2 separate regions of the Homo sapiens genome follow, and region 1 is linked to region 2. A link means that fine-mapping ties the variant in region 2 to the expression of a gene that starts in the linked region. Tissue or cell type: subcutaneous fat. Region 2 holds a variant in brackets; the other region holds the start of a gene. All regions are shown on one strand. Distances are between the middles of the regions.

Region 1 (2,615 bases), 570 kb before region 2:
GGAGGCTGAGGTAAGAGAATCGCTGGAACCCGGGAGGCAGAGATGGCAGTGAGCCGAGATCGCGCCACTGCTCTCCAGTCTGGGCGACAGACTGTGACTCCGTCACAAAAACAAAACAAAACAAAACAAAAAAAACTTCCCCCACGTCTGTTTACCATTATTACAAAAAGCTTGTATGATTGCTCACTGCATCTTCTCCATCCTCCAAGGAAACATCATCGCATTTAAACTCTGTCCTCCATTACGCAAACGAGAAAATAGAGGTTCAGAGGAGGAGACAAGTTGCCCAACTACCAAAATACAAATTCAAACCGGAGTCTTGGCTCTAAAGACTGTTTCCGTTATTTACGCTTTTAACACGCTCCATCTTTCTATCTTCCCCTCGGTGTACCATTTACTCTACCCAGAGGGAGACATCCATGCCTCCCGCTGCTTGTCACACCTCCCCCGTCTCAGAGTCCCCAGAAGTTAAAAGCAATCTCCACGAGCCCTATTTTGAGATAGAATATGTTCCCACACTGTGGATGGAAGCGAGAGATAACTGCAGGAAGCCGTTTTGGCGCCTCAACCATCCCTCGGTACCTCCTCCTGGTCCCCAGCCTCTCGGGCCTAGACTGCCCGTGACCCCCGCCAAAGTCTCGGGTCCCCCTTCCATATGGCCGGTCTCCGCCTCCCCGGGCCCGGGGAAGTCTCCAGGCTGTTTTTTTACCCTGCAGCGAGAAGGATGGTGTGGATATCCAACGGATGCTACCTCCCTTCAAAACTTAAGCCACCACCAACTCCAACATACTGGCGTCCGCCATTAGACCTCAAGACAGGGACATTCTGGTGGCGCGCGGCGGAAAAAGGCACCCAATCCGCGCCTGAAGAATATATATAATTTTTAAAAAATGCTTCCGTCTTGCTTCCACACGGCATTACAAATTATTTAAACATGCTTTATTGCTTTGCTTTTTCCAGGAGAATAGAAAATTAATACGTTTTTAGAAGTAGACTTTAAAAAAAAAAAACCATTAGAGTTCATTGGGCACTTCTGTGGGCAGCCCCAAATAGGCGCCAACGAAGAGGGGGCCTCGCGGGACCGGAAGTGCCGAATGGGGACCAAGATGGCGGACCTTGATTCGCCTCCGAAGCTGTCAGGGGTGCAGCAGCCGTCTGAGGGGGTGGGAGGTGGCCGCTGCTCCGAAATCTCCGCTGAGCTCATTCGCTCCCTGACAGAGCTGCAGGAGCTGGAGGCTGTATACGAACGGCTCTGCGGCGAGGAGGTGCGGGGTCGAGCCTCTTCTTTTTCATGGAGGATCTAGGGAGAGTGGGAGCCTTCAGTCGGGAAATCCGGGCTGTGGGAAACTCTCCTTGCTGGGGGATACAAAAAAGCGGGAAAACAAAGAAGCGGAAGCTAGTCGGGTATATGAGTAGTCCTGTCAACTCTTTTCACGCTGTCGGACGCGCCGAGCTTGTCTTCCCTGATACCTGGGCGATCTGCAGCCTCTCCTCCCTAGACCCCCGTTGATTTCCCTGATCCATGATCACCAGTTTCTCCACGGGAGTAAAGTTAGTCTGAGAGTATTTGCCAAATTGCTTGGTTCTCAAAATAATAAGCGCCCTTTTGCATTGGCTTAATTTACAAATTATGAAACGCTCTCATCCTGTTATTTAAGAGGGAAGCCTTTGCAGATTAACTTCTTGAAGCGTTTTAAGACTTCCTCTTGTGGGGAGTGATTTGGGGGTGTGATTTTAGCGTTTTGGTCAAATGCACATCTTTGTAGAGGTTTAGCTTTTAAGACTCAGACACAATTCTCTAATCTTGGACAAGTCACTTCATCTCTGGTACCCTTGATATTTTATCAAATGAGGGGTGTGGACTATTCTCCAATTCCTTTCAGTTCATAACGTTCTATTTCCTGCCTCCTTTAATTTTCAGTGGCAACTCGATGCTGTCAATTCACTTTCGAATGTCAGTTGGGTTCCTTGCTAGTCAAAAGAGATCTAAGCTCTAAGCTTGTCAGCTGTTTCCCAGACCAAACTTCTAGCAAAGTTGAGCACAAAAGGCAGTTTCAGCCTGAGGGAGAGGTGATCGTTGATATCTTTGAGTATTTTCAAGTATAAACTTGCACTAACTCTAGCAGTTTCTGATACGTTTTTCAGCAAGATGTGTGTGGTGTTTTTTGTTTTGTTTTGTTATTTTTAGAAACAGGGCCGCTCTCTGTTGCGCAGGCTGGAGTGCTGTTGTGCTGCAATCAGAATGGATGAAACCAGAGGCGCACACCACCGTGCCTGGCTAGTTTAGTGTGTGGGGCTTTTTTTGTCTGGCCTCAGCAAGATGTGTTTTAAAATTTAGTATCTTGCGGGGCGCGGTGGCTCACGCCTGCCATCCCAGCACTTTGGGAGGCCAAGACGGGAGGATCACCTGAGTCAGGAGTTCGAGACCAGCATGACCAAAATGGTGAAAACCATCACTACTAAAAATACAAAACTAGCCGGGTGTGGTGACGCATGCCTGTAATCCCAGCTACTCGGGAGGCTGAGGCAGGAGAATTGCTTGAACCTGGGAGGCGGAGGTTGCAGTGAACCAAGATAGCGCCATTACACTCTAGCCTGGGCAACAAGAGCAAAAT
Region 2 (2,756 bases):
CCCAGCTCCTCTCACGACTGAGCCTCCATCTCCAAATCCTGTCGTGGGCATCCTTCGGCCCTGCCCAGGCAATGGGACCCGCTCCTGCTGTCTTTCTCCCATCTGGTCATGTGAGCAGTGCCCACGCGTTGCAGACTGGTTCTGTGTTTGGGCCCTGGCCATTGTCAGAAAGGCTCCACTGCTCCCACCCGGCCATGCTGCCCTCCTGTGATGCAAAAAGCCCTACAGCCACGCCTCTCTGCCCTAGTCTCCTGCCCCCAGGAGCCCGGCCTCATATGCTCCCCACCACGCACAGCTGACCCCGCCCCCTCCCTCTTCTTTTTTTTTTTTTTTTTTTTGAGACAGTCTCACCCTGTCGCCCAGGCTGGAGTGCAGTGGAGAAATCCCGGCTTACTGCAACCTCCGCCTCCCAGGTTCAAGCAATTCTCCTGCCTCAGCCTCCCAAGCAGCTGGGATTACAGCCATGTGACACCACGCCTGGCTAATTTTTGTATTTTTAGTAGAGACGGGGTTTCACTGTTGGCCATTGCTGGTCTCAAACTGCTGACCTTAGGTGATCTGCTTGTGTCAGCCTCCCAGAGTGCTGGGATTACAGGTGTGAGCCACCGTGCCCAGCCCCCTCCCTCTTCTTAAACAAGTGGGCCTGGCAATCACCACCCCTGGGTGACTTGGTGCAGTCCCCTGATCTCCCGAGACTCCCTGAGCTCATCTGTAAACGGAGCAGGGAGGTGCCTGCAGGATAGGACTCACAAGCACTGAGTGGATGCAGGGAGGGGGGCCCCTCGGGGCTGCACCCCAAGCCAACTTCATCCTGCACTAATGTCCATCGGGGTTTTACCTCTGATGAAGGCTGGGGCCAGGAGCTGGGGGCTCCCCGGGGTCCCTCAGCAGCCCTCCACCCCCACAAGACCTTCAGTCTCCACTGTGTCCAAAGAGGGGGTGCCCTGGAGCCCTAGAGGCCCGGAGGGTGCTCGGGGCCGGGCCACGAGGGAGGCTGAGCCATGGAGCTCCATTTGCACCTTTACGGAAATGAAGTTTTCTAGGACTTTGACAAAAGGGCCCTGGAAAGGGTGCCAGCTGCCAGCCAACGACCACCGCAGCCCCTCCTGGGGTCCCAGGCAGGAGTACCCAACCACGGAGGTCACAGCTGGGAGCACCCCTGGTTGCCCAGGGTCTGAGCCTGAGGAGAGGCAGAGCCACTCAGGGCTGGGAATCGGGGAGAAGCGACCCCCCGCATTTAGCCACCCCACCCCCACCTCCTGGGAAACTGACCCTAGAGTGCTCAAGGTCGCCAC[T/C]GTGGCCGCCTGCCTTGGAGGAGTTCATGGGAAGCAGCCATGGGGAACCCTCCCGCCCCCACCACCCTGCCCTGGCTCCCTGGCCTGCTAACATGGGCTGGGGCTGCTGGGGTCCCAGACAAGGGGGGGCAGCGTTTCTGAGCCTCCAGATGACAGTCCCAACCCCGCAGCCCCAGCCGGGCTGGTGGGGAATTCTATACCCCCGACCCCCGGCCCCTGCTGAAAATGTGGAAAATGTGGACGAGTGAGTGAGCAGAGAACATGGGCAAGGCCCGTCCTCGTGGCTCAGATAAGCTCAGGAGGAGGCGCTGGGTCCTTGCCGCACAGAAGCCCCTCCCCAGCCCAGCACGACCTTCTCCCTCCCTGGCCCGGCCGCCCATCCTGCAGGGCTCCTCGTGAAGCTCCCCTTCCCTGGAGGAGGGGATCCGGCTCCTCCTGTGGCTCCTGGTCTCTGTGACAACAAGATGCCAGGGAAGGCCCAAGGTCCTGCCCTTCAGGCGAGTGGGAGCCAAGGGGCCCGACCTCCTGAACTGAGGGTGGGGGGTTAAGAAATTGCAGAGACCCCCAGCAACCAGGGCCTCCGTCCCTCAGGGACAAGGTGGCTGGCTGTGCCTGCCCACCCTGGTCAAGTGGAAGGGCACCTGGACAGGCGTGGCCTCCTGAGCCGCCCTCTGGGGTCCGCGCCTCCGGCCACCCCCCTGGCAGAGCCCAGCTGGGTCGGGTACTCACCAGCCTCCGCATGTCAGCCGCAGGGGGCTGGACCCAGCTGCGCAGGCGGTTGTGCAGGGAGAGGAGCAAGAAACTCTCCTTCCTGTTCAGGGCTGGGGTGGGGAGAGAAGGTCAGGCAGCCCGAGGATGGGGGGACCTGAACCCAACACACGGCAGAATAAGCATGTGTCCCTGCCCTTGGAAAACAAGATGGGAGAGGAGTGTGGTGGGTGCAGGGGACGTGGGGCATAGCAATGGAGCGAGGCTGAGAGAGAGACCAGGTACAGCAGGCGTGGGCTGAGTGCTGGGGTTGGGGTGGCGGGAGGGAACAGCGGTGCGGGCTGGGTGTAGGGGCCAGCCCTGGCTCCCGCAGGCCCCTGTCTGGGGCTCCTCCGGGCCACGGATTTCTCCAGGCCCCAGCCACAGCGCCCCTCGGCGTTCCTCCTTGACCCCAGCCCTGGTCCTCCTTCCTCCTCCTTCCTCCCCAGTCCAGCATCCACCCCTCACCGCCCCCGGGCTGTCCCAGGGCTTCCTCATTAAACCACCCGCACGGCCTGGGGCTCAGGCCTGGGACCGGGCTTCCAGAAGTCTCCTAGCACCCACTCCTCAGAGCTCGTAATGGTGCCTCCACCTACCTCCTCACCAGGTGTCCCTTACCTCCGGCCATCGGAGCCTGCTCCTGCAGCTGGGGTGGCCACACCTCTGCCCAGGCGGTGCCAAGGAGGGCCAGGAGCACAGCCAGGAGATGCCCCC

What was found. PIP is the estimated chance that this variant, and not a neighbour inherited with it, causes the effect.
Region 1: it holds the start of COG4, and the variant in region 2 is fine-mapped to the expression of COG4 in subcutaneous fat (GTEx, PIP 0.99).

The regions. Positions count from the first base shown.
Region 1 is chr16:70,522,023-70,524,637 of GRCh38, reverse strand. COG4 (component of oligomeric golgi complex 4) reads left to right here and starts at 1,084. Exons shown (of 19, transcript NM_015386.3): 1 at 1,084-1,265. The coding sequence starts at 1,095. SF3B3 (splicing factor 3b subunit 3) reads right to left here and starts at 822. Exons shown (of 26, transcript NM_012426.5): 1 at 710-822. RefSeq lists enhancers at 1-278, 1,312-1,451.
Region 2 is chr16:69,951,395-69,954,150 of GRCh38, reverse strand. It overlaps CLEC18A (C-type lectin domain family 18 member A), which reads right to left. Exons shown (of 12, transcript NM_001370523.4): 1 at 2,661-2,756; 2 at 2,025-2,116. Among named protein-coding and RNA genes, the nearest start is that of CLEC18A, 1.4 kb to the right of the region's middle. RefSeq lists an enhancer at 1,044-1,657. The variant T/C (reference allele first, on the strand shown) is at 1,296.